Linked DNA regions of Homo sapiens. The protein of the gene in region 3 interacts with the protein of the main gene of each other region in a biochemical or structural test. Each region holds a gene or a part of one and is shown on either strand. Other genes may lie near its edges. The genes, in order: CLK1, TUBG1 and KIF14.

Region 1 (3,654 bases), on a different chromosome or scaffold from region 3:
TGTCTACCTCCCCTGTTAGAAAGATGCATGCAAATTTAAGAATGACAGACATGATGCTCAATTCCAGGTATTACTGTCTTCAAACTGTACTACTACTCTGACCCACTGTATTTTTTTAATTTATGGTTTAGTGTTCAGTTCTGATTCTATTACATGCTGAATGACACAAATTTCTTTCATCAAACCACCACTCACATGAGTTATTTTTTGGTATTTCAGCTAAACAACTTCTTCCTATATGGTACCTGTCACTGTCAAACATTATCTCAAATGTTCTTTTAGTCCAGGTTGCCAAAAGAGTTAGGATACAGTGGGGAAAGAGTAAAGAGCTCTAGGACCGGGAGCAGTGGCTCTCACGCCTATAATCCCAGCACTTTGGGAGGCCGAGGGTAGTAAATCACTTGAGGTCAGAAGTTCGAGACCAGCCTGACCAACATGGTGAAACCCTATTTCTACCAAAAATATGAAAATTAGCCAGGCACGGTGGTGTGTGCCTGTAATCCCAGCTTCCTGGGAGGCTGAGGCAGGAGAATTACTTGAACTCGGAAGGTGGAGGTTGCAGTGAGCCAAGATTGCACCACTGCACTCCAGCCTGGGCGACAGACCAAGACTCCATCTCAGGGAAAAGAAAAATAAACAAAAAAAGAGCTCTAGCTCTCATGTCCTTACCAATCAATAGTAGGAAGCCCCCTCAAAAATGCTTTGCCATTCAGGAAGAGGAAGAACAATAACAACAACAACAACAACAACAACAAACAGGGAACTAAAAAAAAAGAGTAACGGAAAAAATTCTATACTATCTTAAGAAATTTCATGGCTGGAGCCAAGCGCTCATGCCTGTAATCCCAGCACTTTGGGAGGCTGAGGTGGGCAGGTCACCTGAGGTCAGGAGTTCGAGACCAGCCTGGCCAACATAGTCTCTACTAATACAAACAATACAATACTAATACAAACAATAGCTGGGCATGGTGGCGCGTGTCTGTAGTTCCAGCTACTCAGGAGGCTGAGGCAGAACAATCACCTGAACCCGGGAGGCAGAGGGTGCAGTGAGCTGAGATTGCGCCACTGCACTCCACCCTGGGTGACAGAGCGAGACTCTGTCTCGAGAAAAAAAAAAATTTCAATCAGTAGTTTGATAAACATACATAATTAAACTTGGGACACCAAGTTATCTCCAGCTATGTTATCAGAATGAATTACAGCACTTCCTAAAAATATAGATTCCTAGGTAACTACCCTGAAAAGGTCTGGGGTAGGCAAACCTCTCGAGGAGGATCTTAACATAAAACCAAGGCTGAGAACCACTAATATGGTGGGGGAAAAAAATATGGCCTAACAACAGTGTCCAGTTGAACAACAAAACAATACTTTCAAAACAATATAAAGTGTGTTCTCAGCCTAAAATTAGAAATTATACATACTATTAGTAGCTGTTTAAAAAATATGAAGGGGCAAGTACCTCTTAACTGGAAGTGTCTTACATCCAAGTAAAAAAGGGTATAAAGATATGTATCTAACTCATGGTCAGACCACTTTCTAAAGCTAAATCAATTACCTGTATTGCCAACTTCCCTAAAAGTAATCCCAACATGGGAAACTTACGCTTTATGATCGATGCACTCCACAACTTTTCCAAAAGCTCCTTCACCTAAAGTATCAACAATTTCATCTAAAAGAGAGAAATAAATCTCAGTCATATCAAGAAGTGGAAACAATGTACTTATCACAATAAATGCTATCAATGTAGATTATTCTAGTTGATGCTACAAATTTCCTTATCACTAGATATTTTATTGGTCAACACCATCAAAAAACATAATTATTAGGTCTAATTTCATTAATTTGATTACTGTTCTGGAAGTTCTATATAACAAACATTACATTTCTAAAGAAAGCAAAAATACAATCCCCCCCACCAAAAGAAATGGAAAAATAAAACAAAAACAAAAAAGAGAAAGAAAAAAAGATTTCCAAATCCCTGAAAGCTTAATCTATATATAGATTATGTTATCTGAAAAGTTAATAAGTGTTGAAAAATATTCTATACATCTTGCACTTAGTACGTCTCCACTCTGACAGATCAGGTGACCCTCCTCATCATCCTCTACACTCCTGGTTCTTTTCCTTCGGTGACTCTTCTGGAAACGTCAAGTGGGCGGCACCAAGATCATCCAGCCAATCAATATACCCGAGTGAATTCAGGGCAGAATACGAAATTCATTCAGCGGGGAGATATTCAGGCATTCAGATACACGCCAGGCCACAAACGGTTGGCAGGAGCAATTTCAAATTCAGTCCCCAGAAATTCACAGGGCACATAGTTTATGTTAACAGGAGAAAAACATGGCAAGGAACAGATTTTCAGATAAGATACTCAAAGTGGCAAGGCAACAAAACATAATACAATTGTTTTTCTTAAAAAAAAAAAATGCTTAGTTGTAGCATTCACTGAAACATAATTTTTTAGTTTCTAGTGTTCTAATTTAATGTTGCAAAATCGTATGATGTAATATTTACTTGTCAAAGTAGGCGGTGGCCAAATTAAGATTTCCTACCTAATCTAAGAAAACAAATATTATAACAGTAAATAAAATTAAAGTGCTAATTTTGGGGAAAAAAAGATTTGGCATACAAGAATAACACTACGGCATTTTTAATGTCATCTGAGCTGATCTCCATACTAATATATAACCCATAACAGTTCAAATCTGTTCTGGTTTGCTTAGTGAAAGAAGGGTTAGAAAACATGACTTGTTAGAACAAAGAAGCATACCTAATCCTAAATTATACAAAAATAAAATGCCCTGTTCTACTTTTGTGATTTCAATAGATCAAAACTAATCAGGTTTCTTGAAGTACCACAAAAAACCCTTTTAGAATATTTTGTAATAATTTTCAACTAATCTAAATTAAATCAATTAACTCCCATCATTTCACTGGAATGTCAATTAGGAGCCAACCAATAATTAAATTATAGAACTAAATGTGTACTTTATTTCCGGAATTTCCTATCCAATGCACAAACACAGAAAAAATCCTGCAGGTTAAAACTGAGATGATTTCATCTTAAAACTTTCTCAAATAATCAAACACAAAAATTCAAGTTTCCCTGTTCCACATGGGATATAAAATTTCCAAAATGTTTTAAAAACGTTCATACCCCATGTGAACGACGATGTGAAGTACTGTGGTGAATCCTGTGTTTGCTTTTATAACTACTTCTTCCACTTCTACCAGAAGACTTGCTACTATGGTTCTGATACCGGCTTTCATGGTCTCTTTGGCGATGTCCAGGTTCACATCCTTGAGTGTAGTCATTTCTGTACTCATCAATGTAGCGTCGACTATGATAATCTTTCTCATTTATAGACCTGCTTTCCAAATAATGGCTAGAGAAATAAAAATTATTTTCAATGTTTTATGCTAAGACCAAATATCCTCACATTCTCTTCAAGACAGCACCTAGACTCCCCCACAAGCAGCTTAATTTTACAAACATTACAAACCATCAAAATCTCTCATTGGAAACAAACGAATGGTAGTAATCAGGTACTTATTTTAAGTGATACTAGTTTTGTCTAGTAATGTATTGTTATATTCAGACATTTTAAGTATCCTCCTTACCTATCACACATTTTAGAGTGATTGTATTTG
Region 2 (3,210 bases), on a different chromosome or scaffold from region 3:
GAACTGGAGCCTAGAACCTGAGCCCTGGATGAAAGTCGAGGGAGTGTGGCCAGGTCTCAATTTGGAAGCCCAGAGTCTAAGATGTCTCTGCCCTTCCCCCTGTAGGGCTACAGACTTCCAAAAGTCAAGGCTCCCTTCTCTACTGATTTGACCCCACCCCAGTTTCGCCATCAAGATTTATCTGCTTCTGGACAGTTGTTAGGGAGCGCCATGTTCACCAGGCCTTCGGTCTGTTGCCCTGATCCTTTCCCCAACCCCCACCAGGTATCCTAAGAAGCTGGTGCAGACATACTCAGTGTTTCCCAACCAGGACGAGATGAGCGATGTGGTGGTCCAGCCTTACAATTCACTCCTCACACTCAAGAGGCTGACGCAGAATGCAGACTGTGTGGTGAGTCCTGGATTCTACCTCTCCCAACTCTCAACACCCCATACCCACTCGAGTCTATTAAATCATTTTCATGTATTTAAAAAAAATCCATTTTAGCCAGGTGCAGTGGCTCATGACTGTAATCCCATCACTTTGGGAGGCCAAGGTCGTTGGATCGTTTGAGTTTAGGAGTTCGAGACCAGCCTGGGCAACATGGCGAAACCCCATCTCTACTAAAAATACAAAAATTAGTCGGGAGTGGTGATATGTGCAGAAGGATCACTTGTGCCTCAGAGGCAGGGGCTGCAGTGAGCTGAGATCATGTCACTGACTGCACTCCAGCCGGGGTGACAAAGTGAAACCCTGTCTCAAAAAACAAGAACAAAAAAAAAAACTGTTTAAATAATTAAGATGAAAAGAAAAATTTAAAAATCCATTTTGAGCCCTCCTTTGCCCTAGGTCAGTGCAAATCTCTTTCCAGTGAGTCTTTCTGGCCATGAAGCTCAAAGGAAATTAAGCTTCAGAGCCTAGGGTCAGGCAGAGCTCCTGTTTTTCTTATCCCCATTGATCTGTGATCCTCTTCTGTCCCCCCAGGTGGTGCTGGACAACACAGCCCTGAACCGGATTGCCACAGACCGCCTGCACATCCAGAACCCATCCTTCTCCCAGATCAACCAGCTGGTGGGCCCCCACTCCTGGACTCCTTTGGACTTGAAGCCCTCCTTGTTGGAGGGTCATTTGGGGAAGGGAGGTCCCACCCAGGCTGAGGCCCATAACATGGCACGCCTGTCCCCAGGTGTCTACCATCATGTCAGCCAGCACCACCACCCTGCGCTACCCTGGCTACATGAACAATGACCTCATCGGCCTCATCGCCTCGCTCATTCCCACCCCACGGCTCCACTTCCTCATGACCGGCTACACCCCTCTCACTACGGACCAGTCAGTAAGAGCAGCCTTCAGTGTCCCAGGCCAGGCCGGCCCTGGGCCCAACAGGCCCTGTCCTAGCCTTTCTCTCTTCCCCACTGCCCCAGGAGCTACCCTTTGTGGACCCCAAGGCGCGGCGCTCAGGGACTGGCACAGAGTGGGCGACTTTCTTGCTGACTTGCTCTCCACCCTCCCTCTGCCTTTGGCTTCTGCCAAAGAGAAGCCAAAGGGGGACTGTGCCCTGAGCGCTGGCCGGGTCCCTGTCTCACTGTCCTATCAGGTGGCCAGCGTGAGGAAGACCACGGTCCTGGATGTCATGAGGCGGCTGCTGCAGCCCAAGAACGTGATGGTGTCCACAGGCCGAGACCGCCAGACCAACCACTGCTACATCGCCATCCTCAACATCATCCAGGGAGAGGTGGACCCCACCCAGGTAGGGGAGGCCCCTTCATCCCACACCCTGGACCTGCAGGGGTAGAGGAGAGGCCACCTCCACTGCTCCTATGCCCACCCCAGGTCCACAAGAGCTTGCAGAGGATCCGGGAACGCAAGTTGGCCAACTTCATCCCGTGGGGCCCCGCCAGCATCCAGGTGGCCCTGTCGAGGAAGTCTCCCTACCTGCCCTCGGCCCACCGGGTCAGCGGGCTCATGATGGCCAACCACACCAGCATCTCCTCGGTGAGTCTCAAAGTTTGCACCTTTTTTCCCTGAATCAGTTTCCTGACTATACCTCACCTCTCTGCATCTGCTGGCCCTGCTTCTAGCTTTTTTGCTGTGGGCATAGCCCAGCCTTGGTTCCCCAGCTTTCTGGGCCACGTTATTCTTTGAAGTTCTTTGTAACCCCTGTTTTCTGCACACCCCAAGCTCTTCGAGAGAACCTGTCGCCAGTATGACAAGCTGCGTAAGCGGGAGGCCTTCCTGGAGCAGTTCCGCAAGGAGGACATGTTCAAGGACAACTTTGATGAGATGGACACATCCAGGGAGATTGTGCAGCAGCTCATCGATGAGTACCATGCGGCCACACGGCCAGACTACATCTCCTGGGGCACCCAGGAGCAGTGAGTCCCCCAGGACAGGGACCCTCATCTGCCTTACTGGTTGGCCCAAGCCCTGCCTGACTGACCACCCCCTCAGAGCACAGATCAGGGACCTCACGCATCTCTTTCTCATATACATGGACTCTCTGTTGGCCTGCAAACACATTTACTTCTCCTCTTATGAGACTATTTATCTTTAATAAAGCACTGGATATAAATCAAGTCACTGCTCCCTTTAAAGCCTTTGGGTTCTGGAGATGCGGTGGGGATGCCTGTTCTTTCTCCATCATTCTGACAGGGTCCTCACCCACTTCCAGCATCTTCAATTCTGAACCAACAGCTTCCCCTAGGTTTTTCCTCTGCCTAGTTTTGGAGAACGCTGGTGGGGTTTGACCCACCTGAAATTCCTTTCCAGGGTAAAAAGGCCCAGAGATATTACTTTGTTCTCTGTCTGACCCTTTCTGGGTCCCCGTTCCCTCCCACCCTCACTGTATCAGGTGAATATTCCACCAGCCTCATGTTTCCACATCAGAGTGTCTGATTAATCACAACCTGAGGCCCAAGGCCACCACCACTGCCACTAGGCCATGAACAAGCAATGGAGTCCAACCCAATACCTTTAAGCTTCTAGCAAGCAGTCCAGGAGAGCCGCTCGTTTCAGGCAGTTGGAGTCTAGCAGCATCAAGTCAGCGACCAAATCTAAAACCTAGACTGTAAGCAGGATCATAAGTGGTTCCATAGCTAAGGCACCGTAATTCTCTTCTCTAGTGGTTGCCAGTAATTTAAATGGCCAGTGCCTTCTACTTCTGGTGGAAGATTGCAGGGAGGTAGTAAATACATAGGGGCCTAAGTCTTCAGGATTGTTTTTTTTTTTTT
Region 3 (3,654 bases):
TTAATTAAGAATCAAAATGAGATGACTATAAATATGACTAATCAGAAAAGGGAAAATTTAGGATGGCCAGAGAAAAGGGAAGGAGTAAATAGAATGTGAGGCATGAGAGACAGAGTAGATTGAACCAGAAAGAGGGGGTAGGGCATTCTCGGGCAAGGACAGCAGCATCTGTGCATCACATGTGCTCAGAATAGGAAAGACACCCTGTAGGTTGACATTTGATCTGGTAAGATGGAACCTTAAATCAACAATTCTTCCTGATTGGGAGAGAAAGCAATCATTAGATTAAGTGGGCTGAGCTTCTCCTCCTTTTGACTCTGAAAGATACAGTGTAGAGGCCAAAAACGGGAAACTTTGCTTCCAAACAGCTCTTCTGACAGTTAGGGCATGGTTTCCTTATTAGAGAAATAAATTTCATCCACTGACCCAGAAGTGAGTCAGCAAGCATCTAACAGAATTGGAAGCTTCAAGGGAGTGTCAAAGAGATTTAAGTTCAATTCACCAAATATTTATTGTGCCCTACTAGGTACAAAGCACTCTTCTAGGAGCTGTGGGAAAATATGAGATGAACTGGACATAGTTTTTATCCTGAAAAAACTCAGAAGCTAATTGGAGATGCAATACAGTACATGAGTAATACAAGGCAGAATATAGCTGGTGTCATGAGAGAGAAACAAAACACTTCCAAAGAGACCAGGTATAAGGGAACACCAAGTAATTATAAGGTCATTGACAAATGCTATGAACAGGGATGGGGGCTGTCAGAATTCAATAAACACGTAATAATGCTTATTTTATGTAAAATAGTATTTTATGTTATAGAGGCTCCAGGAGGACTTAGAAATGAAAATGTAGTGTGGGAAACAAATTGGAAAAGGTAGCTGGGGCCACACTGGAGAGGTCCTACTTTTTTCTTCTCCTCTGAGGCTCCTGCCATCATGCTCGCTATACCACCTTCTATTACCCCCATCCACATACTATTATTCTCTACCATCCTGGCTAATTCCAAAGTTGATATAACCACATTTAGTTGGGCTCACTATGTGCCAGGCACTCTTCAAAACCTTTTGTATAGATCAACTCATTTAATGCTCACAACAAACCTATGAGAAAGACATTGTCAATATAATCTCTATTTTCTGTTCTGAAACACAGAAAGACATTAAGTAAATTGTTCAAGATCACATTTCTACTGCAGTGATGAAGCTGAGATTCAAATTCAAATAATGTATCTCCAAAGTCCATGCTCTTTTTTTTTTTCTTTTTTTTGAGACAGAGTCTTGCTCTGTCGCCCAGGCTGGAGTACAGTGGCATGATCTCAGCTCAGTGCAATGTCCGCCTCCAGGGTTCAAGCGATTCTCCTACCTCAGCCTCCCGAATAGCTAGGATTACAGGCGCCCACCACCACACCTGGCTAATTTTTGTATTCTTAGTAGAGACAGGGATTCACCATGTTGGCCAGGCTGGTCTCAAACTCCTGACCTCAGGTGATCCGCCTGCCTTGGCCTCCCAAAGTGCTGGGATTACAGGCGTGAGCCACCATGCCTGGCCAACCAGGCTCTTAAGCATTCATTACACTATGTTATTCAATGACATAGTCATTCCACGCAAAATCTGAGCCTCCTAGTCCTTTGAAATCATTCCAAAGACCTTTGCCTCCACTACACTTATCTATGTCTTCCTGGCTTTACCTTCAAATTACTATCCCTCTAAAATCTGGAGAGCCAATAGAGAACTCTGCCCCACAAGCCCACAGCTTTCTCTTATGCCCACTAAACTTGGACTTGAATCATATTTCATCTCATAGTCTCAATACCACCATATTTCTATTGATCCCCATACTCCTCCTATTTTCAATTTAATTACTGGGAATGAGAGGTTGAGGGTAGAAGAAGACAGAGGAGAGGCAGTATATCCACAGAAGAGACAGAACTCATCAATTACTCAAATCTACTTTTCCTCTTGTGATCTCAAAAAATGACATCGATATCTAATCTGGTTGTCCAACCAGAAACATTGATTTCTCTCTCCCTCATCCTCCATTTCCAATAATCAGCAAGTCTTACCAGTTATCCTTACTAAGACAGTCCTTCATGAGCCAAGTTCTGCAGGCCTTTCTAGTTTATTCTCTTTTTTTTTTTTTTTTTTTTTTTTGAGATGGAGTCATGCTCTGTCACCCAGGCTGGAGTGCAGTGGCGCGATCTCGGCTCACTGCAACCTCCATCTCCCTGGTTCAAGCGATTCTCCTGCCTCAGCCTCCCAAGTAGATGGGATTACAGGCATGTGCCACCACACCTGGCTAATTTTTGTATTTTTAGTAGAGACAGGATTTCACCATGTTGGCCAGGCTGGTCTCGAACTCCTGACCTCAGGTGATCTGCCCGCTTCGGCCTCCCAAAGTACTGGGATTACAGGCATGAGCCACCGCACCCAGCCTCTAGTTTCTTCTCTTATCACTTTCCACCCTCAAATTCCATGCTCAAAACACAGTGAACAATTTATAGATTCCCAAAGGCTCCCTACTTTTTTGCTTTCAAATCTTGGTACATGCTGCTCCCTCTCCCTGGAATATCCTTCTCCCCTTCTTTACCAAGCTAATAATGCTATGTATCCTTCAAAAATAAGCTCAGCTGCTCCTTCCTCTGAGAGAATGTCTCCCTCCAACTTTATATGTCCTCACTTACATGTTCTATTAGAGCATCTACTTTAGTTTGTTTAGCATTTAATTGATTGTACTTGGCTGTTAACTTATTTCTCCCACTACACTCCTTTGAATACAGGGACTGGGTCTTTTAACTCCACACCCCTAATCTAGCACAATTTTCCCAATTTCCTTTATCATAAAAAATACTGGAGGAAAAGCATGAAAATTATAAAATCCCAAGCTCTACACCAGACCAACTGACTCAGAACCCCCAGAAGAGATTTTTAGCAAGTGTGTACATACACATACACATGCACATATATGTCCCTGCCAAGAATCCCCGGTGATTCTTATGACCAAGAAAATTTGAGAAAAAAAAAAACTGATCTAACAAGCTGCCTGGCAACAGCAGAATGCTCAGTAAAAGGTAGCTGAATGTGTAAATGAATAAGTGAAATAGGAAGCCAGTACAGCCTATTCAGGTGTAGTAGAGTGGAAAAAGCATGGCTTTTGAAGTCAACTCTGGGTTCAAATCCCAATTTCACTACTCTTTCTGATTCACGTTGTCCAAAAGGTTATGCCTGCTGTCCTTAGTTAAACTGTACACCTATCTGACTACAAACACACGTATAACAGCACATAGCTACCATGTTTGTGAGCCTCTACGTATACACAAAAGTAAAGCAAAAACAAGGGAGAAAAGACAGAAGAGATGACTTCACTATCACTGCCCACTAGGTGAAACTGATTCTGAATTTAGAATTTCCACCCTCCCTCTCCATACCACTGTTCCAAAGAAGAGTGATCTACAAATTAGAACTGATCTTCCATTAAGTATTTCCTTAGTGGCCATGACTGATTTGAACTTGATTTGACTATTTTCTACTCTGAAAAGAAGCTTGCAGGTATTATAAGAACATACCTCTTGGGTTTGTTTTCTGGCTACTTGAGAAAAAAGATCTTCACAAAATCTTGGAATTATTCCTGGTTCTTCACTAAATCCCATCATC

The links.
Region 1: of the proteins of KIF14 (region 3) and CLK1, one has a biochemical effect on the other in vitro, tested with the Homo sapiens proteins (one large-scale study listed by BioGRID).
Region 2: the proteins of KIF14 (region 3) and TUBG1 interact in a test that uses a peptide from one of them, tested with the Homo sapiens proteins (one study listed by BioGRID).

What each region holds. Positions count from the first base shown.
Region 1 is NC_000002.12:200,858,078-200,861,731, forward strand, and holds part of CLK1 (dual specificity protein kinase CLK1), read right to left. Parts: coding exon 3,625-3,654; intron 3,390-3,624; coding exon 3,161-3,389; exon of another isoform or gene 2,139-3,160; coding exon 2,048-2,138; exon of another isoform or gene 1,670-2,047; coding exon 1,603-1,669; intron 13-1,602; coding exon 1-12. UniProt on the Homo sapiens protein: Dual specificity kinase acting on both serine/threonine and tyrosine-containing substrates.
Region 2 is NC_000017.11:42,612,683-42,615,892, forward strand, and holds the end of TUBG1 (tubulin gamma-1 chain), read left to right. Parts: intron 1-264; coding exon 265-391; intron 392-964; coding exon 965-1,051; intron 1,052-1,166; coding exon 1,167-1,316; intron 1,317-1,577; coding exon 1,578-1,730; intron 1,731-1,813; coding exon 1,814-1,975; intron 1,976-2,161; coding exon 2,162-2,359; 3' UTR 2,360-2,556; downstream 2,557-3,210. UniProt on the Homo sapiens protein: Tubulin is the major constituent of microtubules, protein filaments consisting of alpha- and beta-tubulin heterodimers. Gamma-tubulin is a key component of the gamma-tubulin ring complex (gTuRC) which mediates microtubule nucleation.
Region 3 is NC_000001.11:200,610,752-200,614,405, forward strand, and holds part of KIF14 (kinesin-like protein KIF14), read right to left. Parts: coding exon 3,567-3,654; intron 1-3,566. UniProt on the Homo sapiens protein: Microtubule motor protein that binds to microtubules with high affinity through each tubulin heterodimer and has an ATPase activity. Plays a role in many processes like cell division, cytokinesis and also in cell proliferation and apoptosis.